Linked DNA regions of Homo sapiens: region 1 is linked to region 2. Evidence: fine-mapped expression QTL. A gene starts in region 2. The other region holds a variant in brackets. All regions are shown on one strand. Distances are between the middles of the regions. Region 1 overlaps BCAS3 (BCAS3 microtubule associated cell migration factor). Region 2 holds the start of TBX2-AS1 (TBX2 antisense RNA 1).

What was found. PIP is the estimated chance that this variant, and not a neighbour inherited with it, causes the effect.
Region 1: its variant is the best candidate, but not a certain one, in a credible set for the expression of TBX2-AS1 in thyroid (GTEx, PIP 0.56).

The regions. Positions count from the first base shown.
Region 1 is chr17:61,246,405-61,257,551 of GRCh38, forward strand. All of the region lies in intron 22 of BCAS3 (BCAS3 microtubule associated cell migration factor), which reads left to right. Among named protein-coding and RNA genes, the nearest start is that of BCAS3-AS1, 120 kb to the left of the region's middle. The variant G/A (reference allele first, on the strand shown) is at 5,830.
Region 2 is chr17:61,393,967-61,405,113 of GRCh38, forward strand. It overlaps TBX2-AS1 (TBX2 antisense RNA 1), which reads right to left and starts at 5,640. Exons shown (of 2, transcript NR_125751.1): 1 at 5,273-5,640. TBX2 (T-box transcription factor 2) reads left to right here and starts at 5,877. Exons shown (of 7, transcript NM_005994.4): 1 at 5,877-6,605; 2 at 7,718-7,985; 3 at 9,095-9,241; 4 at 10,455-10,531; 5 at 10,640-10,803. The coding sequence starts at 6,211. RefSeq lists an enhancer at 3,162-3,713, promoters at 4,834-6,094, 5,714-5,961 and a cis regulatory region at 5,950-5,961.

The DNA of each region.
Region 1 (11,147 bases), 150 kb before region 2:
GAGGTTGCTAAGACTCGAGATGGTGCCACTGCACACCAGCCTGGGTAACAGAGCAAGACTGTCTCAGAAAAAAAAAAAAAAAAAAAAAAAAAAGATTTATGTTGTTTCCCCCAGTCCCCTAGGTCTCTCCTTTTACTTCCGCAACCAACCAGAAGTCAATGTAGGAGCCTTGGTGTTAGGTGTAGGCTAGGGGTGGCACCTGACACGGCATCACTGGAGCCTGTGTACTGGAATTAGACCAGTTGCTACAAGTTAGCTCTGTTGGTTGTCAAGAGAATTTCCTTTTCTTTATTAAAATGCAAGTCATGCTTTTGTTTTAATACAATATCAACCATTCAGCCTTGACATGATTTAAAATGAATATGGGTAGTTTTGCCTTTGAGTGAGAGTGTGTGTGTGTGTGTGTGTGTGTGTGTGTGTGTGTGTATGTGTGTGATAACCTAATTGACAAAGCAATCATGATGTTTTCCATGAGCCTGATGTTATCCCATCATTCGGAGACCCATTTTGTTTAATTTGTTTTTTCATATAGTTTCTGGTGGGAAAAATGCATTGCTTTAGTACCGAAATTAACTTGATTGAAATGTCTTAGACTTTATCATTTTCCAGTGGCTCAAAGGGTTATTTCCCAAGTGTTTAATTTTTTAAGTACAGTGTATATTAATTTCACTGCTACTTTCTGACATTCATCATTCCATGAGAAATTATCACAGATGAATACATCAGACTTTTATTTACACTCCAATTCCTACTCAATGTAAAGTTATTTAACTTTGACGATAGCATGCAAATTTGATAAAGATGAGGTTTTTAAAAACCTGAACCATTTATTGATTTGCTAAGTATAATTTTCACATTTTTCTTATAGTATTCTATAATACATCTTTCAGAAGGAAAACACTTGAAAACTAGTATAATCTTCAGGAACCGTTCAATCAGAAATAATGAGTGGAGAGGTCACTTATCAAAAATATATTGTTTAAAATACTTATATTTAAGTATTTCTAGTCTTTGAGGTAAAAAGTTCTGCCACAAAAAGTATGGATTCATTGGGCTTCTGAATTCTGTACATGTCACGATTTTTGCTCTTGGGCTAAAGATAGAAAGTAAAATAAAATGTTCTTTGTCCATTTAGTTATCCTTGACTCCATGAAATTCTCCAAAGTAATTACTGGTGACCACAATACCACCTACCAGCAAGAGCAGCATTGACCATGTGCCAAGTCCCTTATTGCCGACCACAGCTGCTCTTGACTACAGCAGATGTTTCTTCTTTTGACTTGGCAGTAAAATTTTATTAAGCAGTTTTGCAAGTAGAGAGCAGCATACTCTACCTGATGAGTGGCTGGAGATCTTAGCCCTTTTGTGCAATCAGCTTAGTTTTCTCCTATCTACCATCAGGCCCCCGCCTCTAGGTTCCTTGGATCTCACCAACCAGGCCTCAGGCCTTGTAAACTGCAGTCCTCTTGGGTTTGCTTCCCTACCCACCCATGTAATTTTCCCAAAGAAAATAATGTTAGAAGAGCAGCCGCACTTGTGGTTACAACTTGCGGCATTGAAAGGCTGTCACATTGGAACTTTGTTCCTACCAGTTGTGGGTTTACAAAAAGGAGTTGGGGTACTTTGTTGGGATGTTTTGTTAGGATGCTTTTCTGAATTTTTCCACATCTCTTTGGTTTGGATGTTGACTTGGAAATCTCTTTTGAATTAGCTTCTTTTGGAGAGCTTTCTGCTTTTCTGAGCACTTCTTGGATCCTTTCCCCAACAAAGCCACCAAGGGAACTTCTTCTGATCCTATCTCTTTTGTAGGTGGTACCCTATTTGAGTCCTTCTGAAGACTGGAGCACATAAAGGCCTGATTTTTTCTTCTGAGTTGGATTGGATGGTTTAACATAATTTGTCTCTATGTTTTCTGTCTTGGGTAAAGGAATATATTTGTGAATTGTGGCTGATACTACTTTAAAAAATTCCAAAAAGAAAATCTAAAGGACCATTCCTATGATTATTGCAACCCATTTCTCAGGTCTTTCAAAGAAAACAACTCGTAAAGATACTGGCAGTTGAAGGTCTAAGTCCCAGCCTGGCATGAATTCCCAGAGAGCCTTGGGCCTTGGGAGGAGGGGTAATATACAAGATTAGAGTGCAAAGTCCATCTGGTGAGAATTTGTCTGGTTTGTGCTTCCTCAGCAGGGAGGAAGTAGCAGTGACCTCAGTCCTGAATGGTTATTTCAGAAGTGTATCATGGTGGGAATTTAGCCAGCTTTGTGGCAGATGACCAACCCTGATAGCCTGATTTTTAAGGCCCCTAACACAAATGATACCAGGACTTCTTTGAATATTCTATTTAGTCTGTACTAGGACACATAGGACAAGATGAGCGACTATTTTAGACCTGTAGGTCAAGAGGTTTGAAGCAGTATATTCACCTTTTACACTTCAAACCACTTGGAGTATCTTAAAGAAGTAGTATACTGTCAAATACTTATAAAACTTCCTTCTTCTTTGCTCTTAAAGATAAGACGTTGTTTAGATGAATATATATTCTTTTCCTGTGTATTCTACTATTCCTGCAAAAATTTGTTTTTAAAATAAGAAACTTGGCTGGGCTTGGTGGCTCACGCCTGTAATCCCAGAACTTTGGGAGGCCGAGGCAGGTAGATCCCCTGAGGTGAGGAGTTTGAGACCAGCCTGGCCAACATGGTGAAACCCCATCTCTACTAAAAATACAAAAAATTAGCCGGGAATGGTGGCGGGTGCCTGTAATCCCAGCTACTCGGGAGGCTGAGGCAGGAGAATCACTTGAACCCAGGAGGCAGAGGCTGCAGTGAGCCGAGATCACACCACTGCACTCCAGCCTGGGCAACAAGAGTGAAACTCCATCTCAAAAATAAATAAATAAAATAAAATAGAAACTTGAAAATAATACCAGCACTGCTAGAGTGGGTATTTGGCTCAGTTCAGGCCTGTGCCTTTTTTTGATGTTCCCAGAGCAGAGCACTCCTTAAACTAGGATGAGAAAAGTTAATTTTAATCCTCCAAAGGCTTATTTGCTAGCACAAAAGGTCATGAAACACACCCAAAACTATATTGCTAAAATCTGAAGGAGAGAGATCTCAACAGCAGAGATGGACTCTAGTGTCCCAACATAGAATTGTGTCTCTGGCTGAAGAAATAGTTTGTTTTAGGAACGCCAATACAAAAGCTACAGAATGGAAGAGTTTTCCCTTAACTGATCTAAGGGAAAATTCTTTTTCTCGTGTTGTTTTAGGAAGCTCAGAATTATTTAGAAATACTTGTGAAATCATGGTCACAGGAGTTATTTCCAAGGATGTTTAAGTAGCTGCTCTCTGCCCATTATTTTGATAATTACTACACCTTAATCTGTTATCTGTCAAAAGGGAAAAAACTTTCTGTTATCTACCTGATAGACCCATGGAATACAAAAAAAATGTGATGACCCAATCACATTTAAAGCTTTTAAAGCTCCCTTTTGAGATGATTTCTTAGGGTACTAAAATATCACCTGCCCCAGAGTTTACAAATCAGAAATTGAATGAGGCAGGCTTAAAGAGGATCAGAAAACAAGATACCAAATAAGAGCAGCCATTGTAAAACTAGAGAAGGTTACGAAATGGCCCTGCTTTTCTATAAGGAAGGTCGAAGACACCAGGCCCCTTGCCCTGGGTTTGTCTGGTGGAAGTTTAAGGAAAGTTCATACCCTGGGCCCAGTAGAGAGCTTTGCCTTCATAATTGTCTGCATATGATTTGACAAACATAAGACCTCAGTGTTCCTAGATCGTTTATCCCCCTCAGCAATGTGCTAAATATGAAGTAAAAGGTTACCAAAGGGAGGATAGGGAAGAAAACCTAATTACCAATCCTGGTAATTTTAAACATGAGAAGATTTATAAACAACGGCTTCTTCATACACTTGTGAGTTCTGACATGTTGTGAAAATAGGACCTGCTAAGCCATTGAAAGGATTTTCAATATATTGTACGAGATGGAAAGAGGACCCAGAGAAGGCTTGTTTTTCATTTTAAAGAGTTGCTTTAGAAACCAAGGTTGTAACTGAGCACTGCTCTGTGCTGTATCAAGCCGTAATATCCAGTGAGTCATGAAGGCATTAGGGAAGCACTGGAGACATCATAAGAAACATTTGAGTTAATGTTTGAGATAAGGAAGATGATTATCTCTAAAAAGAAACTGAAATTAAGGGGCACAGTCTCCCGTTTTCGGACAGCTAAAAGGCATTCTTTTCAGTGATCTCTCCTTTACTAACCCATGTACATGCTGTGAGTATGTGACCTAGAAACCAGGCTTTTTTAAGCTGAGCTCTGGATACTTGTAGACTGAGACCTTGGGCGAGTTACTGCCCACCTTGGCTTCAGCTTCCTCACCTGAAAACGAGTGATCAACCAGGTAATCTTTATGGGGCCCTTCTGGCCCAAGGACTCTATCAGTCTGGTTTTTGAACATTATCCTACATTAGACAATCTCAGAAAGGTTTTATGACTTGTGGGTGCCTTTGTGGTACTTCACATGAGCGGGAGGTCTTAAGACTATGGACCCCTTGGGAGACCAGTGTCTAATTCTACTACTTCCTCCTCCCCAAGAATTCAGATGGTGAAACACCCTCATCCCTCCAGCCCTGCCCCCAGGAAACCCTTCATTCAGAAAGGTCATTTCATTTCCTGTGAGCCAGTCTTACATCACTGGTGCAAGAATTGGGCAGTGCTTGCCCAGCTGGAAGGTGAGACATTGGAGGCCTCAGCCTGGTGTCCCAGACAGTATTTGTCAGGCTGATGATAAGCTGGTGGAGAGTCTGTTAACTCAAGGCCTGATTCTAATGAATTTGGGATTCCTTGCTGAAAAAAAGACTGGGCTGGGTGTGGTGGCTCATGCCTGTAATCCCAGCACTCTGGGAGGCTGAGGCGGGCGGATCACCTGAGGTCAGAGTTTGAGACCATCCTGGCCAATATGGCGAAACCCCGTCTCTACTAAAAATACAAAAAATTAGCCGGGCCTGGTGGCGGGCGCCTATAATCCCAACTACTAGGGAGGCTGAGGCAGGAGAATCACTTGAACGCGGGATGCAGAGGTTGCAGTGAGCCGAGATTGCGCCATTCCACTCCAGCCTGGGCAACAAGAGCGAAACTCCACCTCAAAAAAAAAAAAAAGAAAAGAAAGACTGGATCCTGGTCCATCCAAGATGCTGCCCTTGAGACCTCTGGGTTGATGACTGATATGTTGGTCTCTTGGGACAAGGCTGTACAGTTGAGAAAAGTAGCAAGAACATCAGATCTCTGCAGATAATCTGGCCCCCATAAAAAAGCAATAGCAACTGGGAAAAGGCTAGACTGCTAGGTTCCCAGCTATACTGGATTATTAGACAAAGCTACCCACTCCATCTTTGTTTATAGAACTCATTTTCAGGAACAAGTGTTTTATAGTGAGGTGGAGGTTGTAAAGAAGCTCTTTATAATGAAGATCCCAAATATGTGAGCCTTCTATCAAGCTTGATCTCAAGGAACTTTACACGGGTGGCAGTTTAGAAGAAAAAGAGAGAAAAGGATAAAGAAAAAAACTAATAAAAATAGCTGAGATCACTCAACAGTTATCAAGAAACAGATACTACAGTTTTATAACACGAAGTACTAAAAGTATATGCACTCTTAAAAGGCAATTAAAACGTATGCTCCAAAACTATAAAACATTTTCTTTTCATCTGCAACATAGAGGGCAGATTACAACACATTAATAACGTTTTGTTTAGAGTTCAGTTTCTGATGGTTTCCAAATGTAGTCTGTGTAGATTAACCAGAAGGA[G/A]TCCAGTTCTCTTTTTTAAGAGCGCTTGTAAAGGAAAGCAATGTGGTAAGATTGTTATGAAAAGAGAGTGTATTTAGGAAATAGCACTTAGCAGGGTCTCTCTGAATGGCTGCCAGGTCAGGAAGCTGAAGTGCAAGGCTTGGCCCTTGTTCAGCCCCCCCAGTTCCAGCTTCTTGACCACACAGTACGTCAAGAACATGTCACAAGCCAGCCAGGAAGACTCAGCCCCGCCCATGGGCCAGCTTGGCACGGCTGCTTTCACATAACCCAGGGCTCCAGAGGGGCCGGAGGCAGGCATTCCAGGGCCACGGGAACATGCAAGTTTTTAAAATAGAAGTGAAGGACTTAAAAAAAAAAAAAGCCTGGGAATTAAACAGTTGCTGAGTCCTTGAGTCCTTATGGAACATGGTTCCTCATGTAGAGTGGCAGAGGTGAAAAGGGCCTTAAAGGTTATCTCATCCTCTGCCCTCTGCTTATAGACAAGGACATTGACCTGCTTACAACCATAGTGATAGAACCAATTGTGGAATCCATATCTGTCAGCTCTTAGTCTGCTAAACACACTGGCTTCTACCTCACTGGGCTAAGCTGCCCTTTCTTCCTTGGATTTTGACTCTAGAAAGCTGTCCAGTAATCTGTTCCTATACATTTTTTTTTTTTTTTTGAGATGGAGTCTTACTCTGTTGCCCAGGCTGGAGTGCAGTGGTGTGATCTCAGCTCACTGCAACCTCCACCTCCTGGGTTCCAGCTATTCTCCTGCCTCAGCCTCCTAAGTAGCTGGGATCACAGGCATGTGCTACCATGCCTAATTTTGTATTTTGTAGTAGGGATGGGGTTCCACCATGTTGACCAGGCTGGTCTCGAACTCCTGACCTCAGGTGATCCACTTGCCTCGGCCTCCCAAAGGCCTGGGATTACAGGCATGAGCCACTGAGCCCGGCCCGTTGCTATACCATTTGTTCCTACTACTTGCCTAACTGTTCTATGTCTCAGTCTCAGTTTCCTTGTCTACAAAATGGAGATAATATCAATGCCTGGGCTGGGCCCGGTGGCTCACGCCTGTAATCCCAACACTTTGGGAGGCCGAGGCAGGCGGATCACCTGAGGTCAGGAGTTGGAGAGAATATATATATATATAATCAATGTCTGCTTCACAGAGTTACAAGGATTGATAGAATAAACATGTGTAACATTTACAGTGCCTGGTATGGAATAAGGGCTCAATAATGTTATCTATTCCCATTAATAATAGTATTATTAGCATTATACTATCATCTGTCTTATTGCTACTACTATTTCTACAGTTGCTACATCAGCAGTCCCAGGAACTTGGCCTACGGCCTAGGCATGGCGTATGAGCTCTATGGTAGTAGAAGGTCAGACCCAGGATTGGAGGAGGGGCAGCTGAGTAGAGGGGAAGATGAATCTCGGATGCCTCTGGGCCAGTGCTTCATAAAGTCCTGTGCTCAGATTCCAGCTGTGGAACAGAGGTGCAGAGGTGGATTTTAATGTTATTGTTGTTTTTGCTTTGTTTTGCCTTTCCATTTTTGTTGTATAGTTTTAGTTGAAAGAGACTTTAGAGATGATTAAGTATACATTACAGTTCGGCCTCCACGGTTTACATGGGGGAAAACTGAAGCGCAGAAAGAAAAAGTGACTTGCCTTATGTCTTGCTAGCCTTACTTGGTAATTGAGTAGAGCTCTCTTGTCTAATTTACATATAAAAGGAAAACTGGAGAAGAAAGAGCCTTAGGATAATACTCATAAGATCTAAAATTCCTTTAGCCTTTCTTCTACATCAGGCCCACTGGGACCCTACTTAAAACCCTCATTTTGACCTGGTTCCTCAGTCAGCATGGAGACAAGCCCGAGGAAAAAACTCAAGAGAGCCGGCCTCCTTCCTTAGGTATTATTAGAGAGCAATCCCCTATAAAAGTTAAGTGGATGTTTGTTTTTTATTTAAAACCTTCAGGAGATTTAACCCTGCTGGGCTGCTCCTGCCTCACCCACAGCAGTGTCCCTTCAGGCCTCACAGAACACTTCTGCCGTAAAGAGGGCTTGCTTTCAGAATGCTTAAACAACTCTGACATGCACATTTCTTTGCTTAATACAAGGCTCACTGATTTAGAAGGTAAAATTACTTTCTTAGTTGATGCCTCAATTGTTTTTTCCTTTGAGTTCTTATCTCTCCTTTGCCCTAGTGTCAAGTCAGTTTTCCTGTTTTGCTAAAATGTTTGATCAACTTTAAGATTAGAAAATTTATGGCGGGGCGCGGTGGCTCACGCCTGTAATCCTGGCACTTTGGGAGGCCGTGGCGGGCGGATCACAGGGTCAAGAGATGGAGACCAGCCTGGCCAACATGGTGAAACCCCTTCTCTACTAAAAATACAAAAATTAGCTGGGCGTGGTGGTGGGCGCCTGTAGTCCCAGCTACTCAGGAGGCTGAGGTAAGAGAATCACTTGAACCTGGGAGGTGGAGGTTGCAGTGAGCCGAGATTGCGCCACTGCACTCCAGCCTGGTGACAGAGTGAGACTCCGTCTCAGAAAAAAAAAAAAGGATTAGAAAATTTATACTGCTTTAAATACCCAGTGAGTATAGTATATGATTGCTGGAAAAGTCGTTCATCCTGACCAAGAACAATACAATAACAACAAAACCATTACCTGGAAAAACCAACTAGAAATTCAGTGAGAACATTTTAGCTTTTTCCTTTTAAATTTTTAAAATTCTGACATTGCCTGGTTACATTGAAACAGCCCTGTTGTGTCATCCTACTTTCTTTTTCCTGGTATTTTCCTCTTTGGGACTTTGGTTTCATTAATCTCAATTTGTTCTGAAGGCACTAAGGCAGATTTTCAAAGAGCTGTAATTGTCACAGGGAGAGCACAATGACTTATTGAAGTTTCACATGTTGCTCTTTTTGGAACTACCAGAGATTGGAACCAATTCTCCATCCACATCTCTATCCGAGAGTTAAGTTTTCTCTTCTCTGGTGCTTGTCAAAAGTATTTCTCCCAGCTAATCTCATTCCCAGTTGCCAAAGAAAAGATCTCAAGCATAACTCCTCATCTCCAGGTCACCCGACAAGGTAAGAAGAGAGATTAAATGAATGTGCCCAAGTTTCTTTCCCTTACAGCCTCCAGATCTCCAGAATATACCTTCTTTAGTTTCCACATCACACTTTCCTACATTTCTTCTTAATTTGATGATGTCTTGAGAGTATCTCAGGAAACTGGTATGACTACCAAGGGGACAGAGGCTTTTGTAGCGCATCAATACCCCTAAGTCTATCCATCCTTCTCCAGAAACACAGTGGGCACATCTTTGCACCCTGTGGAATCAATGTTAGTGCTGAAATCAGAGTAGACTTGGCTTTGTACTTTTGTCTGGGTAGTTGGCTTAAGTGCCGTGTCTGTATTGAGTGACACTTCTCCATCAGAATTCTTATTCTTTTGGAAGCCTAGACTATTTCTTCATTTGACCACACTGTGCAGGGTTTTAGTGCTAAAGGGTTCCGGATGTAGCTGCTCTTGTGGAGAACCTTATCACAGCTTTCTTTTCCCTAAGTTATTTGTGGTAAAGTCCTGGCAGTTTGTTTAGATGTTCAGTGAGTGACACCTAATTGAAGAAGTGGCTGGGGCTGGACTTCAAGGTGGATGGTTTTCTTACCAAGTACTATGAAGAGATTTGCTCCTAGACTTTAGAGATGGGAAATGCTGCTCTCTTTTCCCCTGAAAATTGAGTCTCGTCAAACTGACAAGTTATTTTCTGAAACTCCGAGTCATAATTGTACCATATTTATTTTCTGATTTTTTTTAACCTTTCAGTTAATAAATGTTTTCCAGCCTCCATCAGCCTCTACTGGTAATCAGGAGAAATGGGCCAATGGCTTTATGTAACTGAGGTTTCTGTTTTAACATGAAAGTACTATATTTACCTTCAAAATGACCCTCACTTAGATCAGACTACCTGGGGTTGTCAAGCCTTCCATCTTCAAGCCAAGAGGTAGTTTGGTTTTTGTTTGTTTGTTTGTTTGTTTGTTTGTTTTTCATTTATTTTTATTTATTTTATTTTATTTTTATTTTTTGAGGCAGAGTTTCACTCTCTCGCCCAGGCTGGAGTGCAGCGGTGTGATCAAGGCTCACTGCAACCTCCGCCTCTGGGGTTCAAGTGATTCTCCTGTCTCAGCCTCCTGAGTAGCTGGGATTACAGGCGTGGGCCACCATACCTGGCTAATTTTTGTATTTTTAGTAGAGACAGGGTTTTGCCATGTTTGCCAGGCCGGTCTCAAACTCCTGGCCTCAAGTGATCCACCCACCTGGGCCTCCCAAAGTGCTGGGATTACAGGCGTGAGCCACCGCGCCTGGCCGTTTGGTTTTGTTTAGGTGTCTTTGTCCATGGAGTGCTATGTGTCCAGGGTTGTTGCCCACTTCCTGCCTTTGAAACCAGTGAATTGTGTCACCAGAGAGCCTTGGATACAGAGATAAACTGGAGACAGAGTAACACAAAAATAATCATTTCAAAAGAAACCTGAGGCTTTCAGGGTTGTTGGTATGCCATGGCACAAGGACCCAAAGTGATCTTCTCAGGCCTCAACCCCAGCCCATGCAGATGGTATTTGAGCCACTTACAAGAAAAGGTGAACCTTAGTACTGCATATAAATAAGTCTCTGAGTAATTCCTTGGAGGTGAACCTAGGTTCTCTTTGAGGTATTTTCTCTACCAAAATCAAGATTTTTGGATTTAAAAAAAAATTTACATTATGCTTTTTATTTACACAGCATTTCCGCTCACATGATTTCCATTTAGATCTCAATCTTTGCGATCGGTGTTGTCATGTCCATTTTGCTGATAAGGCTTAGGGAAAGAAACTCTAAAATCACATTGCTAATAAAGGGCAGAACTGGCCAGGCGTGGTGGCTCACGCCTGTAACCCCAGCACTTTGGGAGGCCGAGGCAGGCAGATCACGAGGTCAGGAGTTTGAGACCAGCCTGGCCAATATGGTGAAACCCCATCTCTACTAATAATACAAAAATTAGCTGGGTGTGGTGGCCACACGCCTGTAGTCCCAGCTACGCAGGAGGCTAAGGCAGAAGAATCGCGTGAACCTGGGAGGCGGAGGTTGCAGTGAGCCTTGATCACACCACTGCACTCCAACCTGGGAGACAGAGCGAGACTCCATCTCAAAAAAAAAAAAAAAAAAAAAAAGGCAGAATTCTGGCATTCCACCCATGTCTTCAGTCGTTTCTTCAAGAATACTTTTACCAAGCCACCTTCCTTTGAATGGAATACTTTAGCGGTCCCAAGAAAGTCTTC
Region 2 (11,147 bases):
GTCTTCCTGGGGATGGGTTCAGCTGCCCTAGGAAGCATGAGCCCCTCTGAAACCACCCCAGGACACGTGGATGTGGCAGAGACCTTGCTGCCAGGGGCTCTCTCAACCATTCAGGGAACTGGCTGGCAGCTTACAGAGTCAGGAGTCCTCCCTGGCCCGGCCCTTCCCCTCCAGCAGGGGCAAAACAGCTGTGGCCTCCCCCAGGCAGGGAAAGTGGTGGGTGTAGGGCTGGACTTGCCGGCTGAGCTTGCAGGACAATCTGGTTATTCATCTGCTTGAAGTCAGGGCAACTCTTTGAGTATGTGGGGGAAGGGTGAGGATAAGAGAGACCAGATAAGCTGGCCCCACAGCGGCTGCCACTGGAGCTCAGGTTATCAGAAAGGCCTTGGGCCTGGCCTCCGGCTAATTGGGGAGGTTATGGAGCCTGCCATAGCCTGTAATCAGCTGGAAGGGAGAGCTGGGCCCCAGGGTTGGGGACCTTACTGGCCACTGGCCCCAGAGCAGCCGCTTCCTATCCTCTACAGATAACATCCAGGGCAATCTGGGACTCACCCCCAGCCCCAGCAGACCTAATGGTGGCATCATCTGGGAGGGCATCAGAACATGAATCAAACTGTGGCTGATCAGGGGACCTTTAGGAATCCATGTGACCTACCGATTCTCTCGGCACTACCTGGTCAACGGGCAGCTTTACTACGGACTTCCTCTCAATTTGATGAAGGAAAAATACCTTCATGATCTGGAAAGAGGCCGGTGGGAGCCAGCGTGGCAACTGAAGGAGCAAGAGTACTGTCTGAGATGAGAAAAGGCACGGTGGGCCTGAGGCCAATTCAAGCACACAAGCTCAAACACCAGGGCCAGCCCCTCTGTCAAGGAGCAGAGGCCAGGCTAGGCAGCCACCAGTCTGGAAGTGTATATGGTTTCTCAGTGGTAATTTTTTATTTTCACAATTCAGGGACTCATGAAACTAGAAAGTACCTGAGAGTTCTGTTCGAGCCTCATTTTTTTTGCAGATGACAAGCAAGCCTGAGCCCCAGAGAAGGGCAGGGCCTTGCCCAAGGTCACAAAGTCACACGCCTAGTGAGCCTATCCCTGTCTGCACCTGGCTGCTTCACACCCTGGCCAGTTCCCTTAGAGGGACCCAAATCCGAACTGACCTCCCTGTCCTGTGCCCCTATCCCATCCAGAATGCTGACCCCACTGATCCCCATCCTGACTCCATCAGGCTTCCTGCCTGGGCTGAGAGACTGAATTTGCAGCTGCTCCCTTGCCCCTGTGTAGCTGGAAGGCAGCCCTCCCACTGCAGACCTAGAACTGGAGGCTCTAGAGGCAAAGGGACAGTGCATCCTGTATGTCTCGAATTCAGAGCAAGAGCCCAGGGGAGGGTGGCAGCCCTGGCATCTCAGGATCACCTTGCTGTAGGAGCAGGGGTAGGCAGCTCAGCAGCACCGGCTTCTTAGGAGTGGGTTTGGACTTGCTCTCTTTAAGGTCCCAGGGTCCCATCCCAGCTCTGCCACCAGCAGGTACGTGGCCTTGGGTACATGACTGCACCTCTGGGATTCAGGGTCCTCATGTGTAAAGGAGGGAGTGGAGGGGAGAGAGCAGCATGCCCTTCCGAAGGCGCGACAGAGCAGAAGCAGGCAGAGGGGAAGCTGCGGGTCCACAAGGCAAACCCATGGTTCGAGGGGAAGTTGACAGCCAGGCCAGGTGCCCCTTAGCAGGGATGGGGAGGGCGGAGGCGGCACAGCTGGAGCCCGGATTGTGGCACGCCGTCACCGTGCTGCTCCGGGGAATCCCGACCCGCTCCCTGCGAAAGCGTTTCCGAACGCGAACCCAGAGCCTGTGAACGCGCCGGCAAGCCCCCCACTCCCCCACCGCCGCCCGTCGCAGGTGGGCCCGTCCTAGGGGTCCTTCCTGCGCTCTACCCCGTCTCTCAAGTCACTCAGTCGATCGCCCCGTTCACGCTCCCGTGATCCCAGACATCCATAACCACGATCTCGCCTCCATGCACATCCAACGCACGACGGTGCACAGACGTGCACCTGACTTCTGCGGACCAGGTGTCTCAAGCGTACAGCGGCCACCCGCGGAACCGCGGCCCGGGGCCAGTGAGTCGTCTGCAGCTCCCCGGGTTAGGGGATTCCCCAGAACTCCGGGAAAGTCACCCGAAGTCCATCCGGGATGCGGCCTTGGTTCTCGGCCGCGTGATCTCGCCCTTAGGTGCAGAACGACGCCCTTCCAGGGCCCACAGCTGCCAGGCTGGGCCTTGCCCTCGCATCCCCCGGGAAGACCAGGGACGGGGCCACACAGGCCGTGGCTGCGGAGACGCTTCCCCGGGCCACCCCGCGACCAGGAGGGAGTCGAGCCGCCCGCTCTCCCCGCGTCCCCCGCCCCATCCCAGCCAGTTGGCCCCACCCTGCGCGGGATAATTGGGACGGGAGGGAGGCGACGGGAGGGCGGCGGCTCCAGAGAGACTGCGCGCCTGTCAGCGGCAATTTGTTTAAGTGGACGGGACGGGCCGGGCCGCTGCGGGCTGGGGTCACCGAGGCCGCGGCCCCCACCCCAACCAGACCTGGGACCGCGGGGGAGCCCGGTCCGGCCGCTAAACCGGGCTGGCTGGCGCCAGGGCTCCGGGAGGTGCGGTCCGGCGGGGAAGCCGTGATGGGAAGCGACTCTGTCCAGGGAGTGTCCTTCACCACCACACTCCTCACGTCCAGGCAGTGATCGACGGCCTGGCGGCACCCTCACAGCGGGCCCATAGCACGGGGCCACACACGTCCCCTGAGCTTAGCCTGGGCACATTCGTCTGCCACCGAGGGCTTAAGCCAGTCTGCAGCCCGCGCCCCGTCACTCGGACGCAAGTCCGTCGTCCGCTCTGCCACGCGGCCGCACAGCCCGAGCTTCCTGCTGCCCACTGCCCGCGGGGTCACGCAACCCCGGCCCTGCACACAGAGGAGGAAGCGGCGGGGACCCCCTGCCACCTGGAGGCTCAACCCGGGGAAGGTCCCAGCAGTGCCCCTTAACCCTGCGAGAGGTGACGGGGCCGGAGGACGGAAGGGCAGCCACGCCAGGCTCAGGACCGCGGCCCCACCCGGCCCAGGCCGTCCCCGCTCCCGCCCCATTTCACTGTTGCGGGAAGCGCGGGGCGCACAGACCGCGCGCCACCAGCCCAAGCCCGCCCGACGCCCTGGCCGGAGACCGCCTGCGAGAGGGAGGGGCGGCCGAGCGCGCGTCCCCCGCCTGTCTGCGGGACCTGGCCGATGCGAAGTGACAGGGGCCGGAGCTTTGTTGTGGAGCCTCGGCCGCCTGGCGCCAGCCGCCCCCGCCCGCGCCCTCCCCCTCCAGCCCCGGGCGGCCCGCGAGGCGCCCCCCGGGGCCTCTTAAAGGAACACGCACACTCGGCCCCCGGGGCTCCGCCAGGGGAGGGGGTTCCTGGGAAGGGGGAGGGGGCCGGCCTAGGTGGGGGAGGGGCCCAGCGGAGGCCTCACGGCGCCGCTCCAGGGCCTCCCAGGCCTCCCCAGCGCCAGCTTTCGGTGAGCCTCGGGCATTCCTAGCTGGAGAGTTTGGCTGGGGGTCGCTACAGACTCTTCAGAGCGGCTGCAGCAGGACCTCAGGGTGATCGCGGGACCGCGGGGCGGGGCGAGTGGTGGGATCCTGGCCCGGACAGAGCCCCGGAAAGCCAGAGGGAAGGTCGGTGCCACTGTAGGTGGGGTCGCCGTCCCCAGATGCAGCCGCTGCACTGTCGCCGCCAGGTTTCTCGGTCAAATAACCCAGGCCTGAGTGTTTCAAACTCTTCAGGCCTCGGACCCCTGGACCAGCTATGGATGGACTAATGAAATGGACTAATGTCTAAAACGCACACATTTAGATGTACACATACTCTTACAAGGACAAAAGTATGTGTCTACACACACACACACACACACACACACACACACGCGCGCGCGCGCGCGCGCGACTTTGCGAATGTATTCACGGATTCCTAGGCCGGTACCTGGGTTCCCGGCTAAGGAAAGCTGCCCTGGTTATTATCTGGTCACCTCACCGGCTGCGCAAACGTGTCCACAACGGGTCCCTCCCCGAGAGGCCACATCTCGCCTAAGGTGGAGCCAGCAGGTATTTGCCTGTGGAAAACTGCAGTGGATCCTGCCCCGTCTGCGTAGACTGCGCAGCTCGGAGTCAAAGATTCGTTCTGGCCAGAGAGGAGGTACTAAGAGAGGTGCGACCTAGCCAAGAACGAGGTCGTGGAGAAAACCCTGTGGGGGCGGCGCTCACATATGCGGTGATGAGGAGTTGTGAGGGCCCTGGGGTCGGCCCCGAAAAGTAGGGATAACGGTCGCAGAGGCCATACTGCTTCCGCCGGTCCCGAATCCGCACTGCCAGGAGAGATCCGGCCTTCAAACGCTGCTCCCAACGTTCAACAACGAAGTGCCCTGCGACCGGTGTGCGCAGTGGGCGGGCGCCTGCATGGGTCAATGTTGGATGTACGCGCCCACCACGCGGTTGTACGGGTGGGAATGTCACCCGTGGCTAGTGCATGCTCTGTCTTTTCCTTCAGAAAACGACCTTCAGGAATCAGCCTGAGTGTTCGCGCCCGAGCCCGATTGGAAGCAGGTGCGTGGTCGCTTCACTCTCCCCGTGCACACCTTGAGTTATAGCTCTCGCTGCGCACAGAGGGCACCACACGGGGCCCGACACACACACACACACACACACACACACACACACACACACACACACCATCACTTCATGGGGGGGAAACTGAGGCTGCCGGAAGACAGAAAACGAAGACTGATCACAGAAGAGGGGGCTTCAATCACAGGTGCTCGCAGACACCCCAACTCCCTCACGCGTTACTCAGCACTCCTTAACTTAGGAGACGTGCGCTTCCGAGAGATGAGAAGAAACTAAAAAAGTGGTTGGCAGGGCGAAGAGAGGAAGCCGGTATTTCGGAAGAAGGAGACTTTCGTCTCCGGTACCGGATAGGGCGAAAATTCGTTGGGTCGCGGGTGGAGAATCCGGGGTCCGCCCGCGCGGTGCCGCCCTGTGCTCAGCGAAAGGTGCGCTCACCTTCCTGGCCCCGAGGATCCGCTCCTCCCGGCCGCTGGAAAGCTCAGGGCGGGGCCCGGGCCTGCGGAGAACTCCAGGTTCCTTCCGAGTCTTCCGGTGAAGGCGGGCGCGGGTAGGGGGTCCCCGCGTTTCCCCAGCGCAAGGCCGCGTCCCGCTCCCGCCCGCGCCGGCCCCAGCAGGGCTCGGCCATGGCTCCACTCACCAGCTCCCGCCACCTGGGATCCGCTCCCGGACCTCGGCCGCCCGAGCCTCCCGACTCGCCCGCCCACCGGCCTCGCTTTCCAGTGCCTGCTGTCTCTTTCCGGGGCGCAGGGACCCCCAGGCGGCGCCACGACCCGGAGCTGGGTCGGAGGCCAGGCTGGGGCTCGGGCCAGAGCGGCCGGGCCTCTGGGCGCGGGAGAAGGAGGGCGCCCCCTCTCCGCTCGGGGTCGTGTCAATGCTTTGCACTTGGGGCCGGCGTGCGGCTGCGGGTCCTTCCCCAAGGCCCCGGGACCCGGGCTCCCCTCGCCTCAGGCCCTTTCGGCGGGTCAGGTCGGCCCTCCGCGCTCTCCAGTCCGGCGCAGGCAGCCGCAGGCGCGGGCGGGCGGTGGGGGCCGGGGCAGGAGGAGGGGTCTCGGGGCCCGGCGGCCCGTCATTGGTTAATATTTTATTCTGTTGACATGTTTTCTTACTGCTGAGGCTTCCGACACCTTCTCCCAGGCCCCCCCTCCCGGCCGGAGCTTGGCCTGAGCTGTCAAAACCCCGCCCCCGGAGACCCACAATTGGTCCAAAAAGCGTAAAATCAGCAATCAAGGGGGGCCTGGCTCGTTAGCGCAGGGGATCCGAGCTGGGCAGGACATGTGAGATAGTCACAGTTTTCCAGAGATCACGACAAGATCTAACCAGTCGCGCGTGGTCCCCGGCGCCGGAGCGGGCCAGCTCAGCCCGGCCCAGCCCGGCCCCGCGCAGAGCCCCCGCCGCCCCCGCGCACAGAGCCGGGTGCCCCTTGCGGTGCGCCGGACGGGAAGCCCCGAGGAGCAGCTGCTGCGCCCGCCACCCGGGTCGTCCGTCCACCGCGCGCGCCGCCGCCCGGGCCGGGGGTCCGAGCCGCGCGCCCCCGGCCCCGGCCCCGGCCCCCGGGCGCCTGGGCCGGATGTCCCGATGAGAGAGCCGGCGCTGGCGGCCAGCGCCATGGCTTACCACCCGTTCCACGCGCCACGGCCCGCCGACTTCCCCATGTCCGCCTTTCTGGCGGCGGCGCAGCCCTCCTTCTTCCCGGCACTCGCGCTGCCGCCCGGCGCGCTGGCCAAGCCGCTGCCCGACCCGGGCCTGGCGGGGGCGGCGGCCGCGGCGGCGGCGGCGGCAGCAGCGGCCGAGGCGGGGCTGCACGTCTCGGCACTGGGCCCGCACCCGCCCGCCGCGCATCTGCGCTCCCTCAAGAGCCTGGAGCCCGAGGACGAGGTGGAGGACGACCCCAAGGTGACGCTGGAGGCCAAGGAGCTGTGGGACCAGTTCCACAAGCTAGGCACGGAGATGGTCATCACCAAGTCCGGGAGGTAGGGCTGCCGGCCGGCTGGAAGGCGCGCGGGCGGGCGGGCGGGCTGGGGCACGGGACTGCACGGATCAGAGCAGAGCTGGGGACTCCCGGCTCCCGGCTCCCGGCTCCAGGTTCTGGCCCTGACGCCACGCTTCGCTCCCACGGACAACCAAGTTGACTTTTCTCGTTTGGCACCGGAGCGATTTTTTTTTAAAACAAAAACGCTAAAATCCTCCGAATGAAATAAAACGAAAACATACTGCTAAAGAATAGCCCCAACCGTTCTGAGTCCCAGCGCAGAGGAGGCCCCGCGGCTTGGCCCTGGCGGTCTCCTCCGCCCCGCGCTCTCGCTCTTCTGCGTCCGGGTCCGTCTCCGAGCTCGGGGGAAATTCAGCCTCTCTCAGACTCTGCTCCGACCCCGAAGCCCCTAGTGGGACCTGGGCCCAGCTAACCCCACGCTGGTTGCTCGGTTCCTGGCAGCGAGCCCCGGGTCAGCCGAGCCCTCCGCCTCACCGGGCTGGGAGCCCTTTCTCCACCGCGGGCATCCGAGCCCTGGACGCATCCGCCGCCCCAGGCCTTAAAGCCTGAAGAAAGCCACAGCCCCGGCCCCTCCACCCTTCGACTCAGCCACCGAGAATCCAGGCCTCGGGTTCACCCTCTTCCCCCGAACTGCACGGCCAGGATGTCTTATCAGGCTCTGTAGCCCAGTTCCCAATACAAACACCCTCCAGATTTATTTCTGGGAGCTTCCGTCCCAAGTGGGTATTTCCCCTGAACGAATTTCGGGGAGATTAAGGAGAAGCGAGAATATTTCTAGAGGGCCTAGACTTCTCTCCTGGGCATCAGCTTTCATCTCAGATCAGGGAGAAAGAGGGTCCCCAGATCTGAGCACAAGGCCTAAAGGAGGCTGTTTAGGAGAGGGTCTGACAGGCAGAAATGGGATCTCCTGGGAGCAACAACCACAGGTGGGGTCGTCCGGGCAGTGATGAGAGGGCAGAGCAGCCGACCACAGGGGAAACAGCCAGGCGGCAGCGGTGTGCGCAACGAGGAGGGATAAATAAAGGAGGAGTGGGGTCCTGGAACCTAGAACAGCCGGTTCCAATGGGATCTCCTCCCTTCCCTCCCTCCCAGGCGGATGTTCCCCCCCTTCAAGGTGCGAGTCAGCGGCCTGGACAAGAAGGCCAAGTATATCCTGCTGATGGACATTGTAGCCGCTGACGATTGCCGCTATAAGTTCCACAACTCGCGCTGGATGGTGGCGGGCAAGGCCGACCCTGAGATGCCCAAACGCATGTACATCCACCCAGACAGCCCAGCCACGGGGGAGCAGTGGATGGCTAAGCCTGTGGCCTTCCACAAGCTGAAGCTGACCAACAACATCTCTGACAAGCACGGCTTCGTGAGTGTTGGGGCAGGGTGGGGACGGTGCAGGAGCTTGTTGACCCAGCACTGCAGCTGAGCAGGAGAGCAGGGCGGCAGGATCTCCCAGGGGGAAGCGCTGGGCAAACCCCCAGAGTGCCCCTGCCCGGGTCACTGCCCTGTGGTCTACGTGGGCTGGGCCTGGGCCTGGGCCCCAGCGCTCTCCTTTGCAAGCCTGGGAAATGGTGGGGTCAGTGGCTGGCAGCTCACAATCTCAGTTCCTCAGGCCGTGGAGGGTCCCTTGTACCGTCAATAGGGAGGCAGGTGCTGCCAGGACTGGGTCTGCAGTGCTGGACCACGGAGGTCACCCTGCTCTTGGCCTGTAGGTGCCGAGCTTGGAAGACCTGCCCATGACCTCAACTTGTCCATCACCCTTCTGCCAAGACCCGCGTCCCTGGCCCTCCCCCAAGACTAGGGGATTTAAAAGTTAAACCACCCTCCCCACCCACCCCCCCAGCCTCCCTAAGACCTTTCCCTCCTCCCACAGGCAGATGCCCAACTAGGAGGAGAGGGTTTGGGGGTTCTCTCCATTTATGCCTGAGCAAGGCCCCAGCGAACGGGGGTGGTGTTTCATAGGGTAAAAGGAACTGCCCATTCTGAGGTAGGGCAGTTGGTGAGCCCCCGAAGGTTGGAATCTCCTCTTTGTGGGGTTAGGGGGTTTACCAGTGCCAGAAAGGAAGAGAGTGTTAAGAGTGGAATTGTAGGGCTCTGTTTTGTTTTATTTTGTTTGGGTTTCTTTTGTGGGGAGGGGTTGTTTTTTGGTTGGTTTTTTTGTTTTGTTTTTTGTTTTGTTTTGTTTTTGCTCTGTCTCATTTCTGTTTCCAACTGGGAAATTTTTTTTAATGGCAAGAGAAAAAGAAGCTGTGAAAAGAGAAAAGCGAGAGGAAAAGTAGAAGAAAAAGAAATAAGGGTGAGAAAAGAGCAGAGACAGGAGAAAATGGGGAAGAGGAAGAACCGATAGAGAGAGAGAGAGAGAGAGAGAGAGAGAGAGAGAGAGAGAAAGTGGAGAGGAAGAGGTCAGGTACCCAAAGAATAGAAAAGCTCGGGCCGGGGCTGGTGGCTGCCGGCTGACCCCCACCCTCCCCGCAGACCATCCTAAACTCCATGCACAAGTACCAGCCGCGCTTCCACATAGTGCGAGCCAACGACATCCTGAAGCTGCCTTACAGCACCTTCCGCACCTACGTGTTCCCGGAGACCGACTTCATCGCCGTCACTGCCTACCAGAATGACAAGGTGCGCGCGGCGGGCGGTGGGCTAAGCCCCTGCACTGACGCCCCTCAACACGTGCAGGCCCAACCGTCCGTTCATCGCCCCTCGAAGCCCCCTGCACGGGATCCGCGCTCTTGCGGCCCGCCCCCGAGCACCGAGCCTCGCATCCATACGCGCAGCACTCACGGAAGTCCTCAAGGCGCCCTCTCAATCCCACCGCGCGCACACACAGGCTCCCCTGGGGCGAGCGAACAGCTGGGCCGTCGTTCTGATGGAGATGTTTACTTAACAATTAGCTGAGACTCCGGGCCCGCGCTGACATTTTTACATTTTATTCGTTTATTTCTTGGCTCAGGAATGAGAATGTAAGTGAAGAGAGGGCGCCCGAGGCAATCTGCCCAGGCTCTACCGATGCTCAGAACCCGGGGCCCAGTTTTCACTCTCTCGGGGGGAGCCAGAGGGTGGGACAGGTGACACAGCCCCCCAAAGCACTCCTGGCTACTGCTCTGGGTCAGTCTAGGCCCCAGACCCCTTGGGAGGCGCTTAGAGAATTACCTTCCAATCAAAGGGCTTTTTCTGCTTGCGGCTTCTCCACCCTTGTTCTAGTGGGGCAGAGCATCACCCCTCTAGGCCTGTGCCCTTGTGCGCCACTGTCGAGTGAAAGAGAGGGTACGAGTGTCCGTGCCGGTCGTTGTGGCTTTGTGAACCAAGGTGTACGCTGGGCTGTGCGTGCCCCGTTTGGGGTGTGTTGGATACCTGTGGAGGCATGTGAATTCGTTTGGTTCCGTAGGCGTTTGTTATGTCTGTGCACACTTGCGTGTGTGCGAGCCCGTGAGTGTGATTTGGCTTTGTGTGTACCTGCAGCCTTGCGTGTGAACTGCAGTCTCTGTTCGCGCCTGCTCGGGTGCGGAGTCGTTTAACTTGCGCAAGCCCGCGGGCGGGTGTGCATGCTTGGGCTGGTTCCGACACTGTGGCACTGCTTTAGGCCTGTGTGGGGCTGTCTAGGCCTGTCTAGGGATAATTCCTCGAATGAAGCTTTTGGAGGACAGACCCCGTCGCTTTCCGCGAGGCCCTCCCACCGGCCTCAGCTCGGGGCGTCCCATCCCAGGCGGGTGGGTACCAAGTGGACGCTCCCCGGGTCTTCCCTCTGCGGCCAGCACCCGCTGACCTCGGGGTGCCACCGACCACGCTGGAAGAGCCACGGCCTGACTTAGCGCCGCCCCCTTGGTCCCCGCAGATCACACAGCTGAAGATCGACAACAACCCGTTTGCCAAGGGCTTCCGGGACACCGGGAACGGCCGGCGGGAGAAAAGGTGAGAGGCCGAGGACAGCAGCCCTGTGGCGGGTGCCCGCGGGAGCAGCGAGCAGGAGGGATGGAGGGATGGGCTCCCCGCTGACCTGGTTCATCCGCTCATCCCCAGGAAGCAGCTGACGCTGCCGTCTCTACGCTTGTACGAGGAGCACTGCAAACCCGAGCGCGATGGCGCGGAGTCAGACGCCTCGTCGTGCGACCCTCCCCCCGCGCGGGAACCACCCACCTCCCCGGGCGCAGCGCCCAGTCCGCTGCGCCTGCACCGGGCCCGAGGTGAGGGTCGGACCGGAGGAGGGACAGGGAGGTGGCGGCGGGGGGTCCTCAGGTCGCTGGGCTGGTCTTTTGCTGAGCCACCCGCTAACCTGAAAGGCCAGGAAGGAAACGTCGGCGAGTGTCTGGGATGGGGTTTCCGTCCCGGGACTCCCCTACGAGGGCGGTCCCCGGTAGCCAGAAGATCCGGCCGGACTCCGAGCCTGGCCCCTTGGGCGCCGTGTAATTCTATAGCTGTAGGGTTTCCTCTCCAGGGCTGGGTTCCTTCCACTGTAAATCTGGGGTCTTGGATTAGGTGACCTGCAGCTGCCCTTTGCCCGACTCCAGCAGCTCCTCCGACTCGGCCT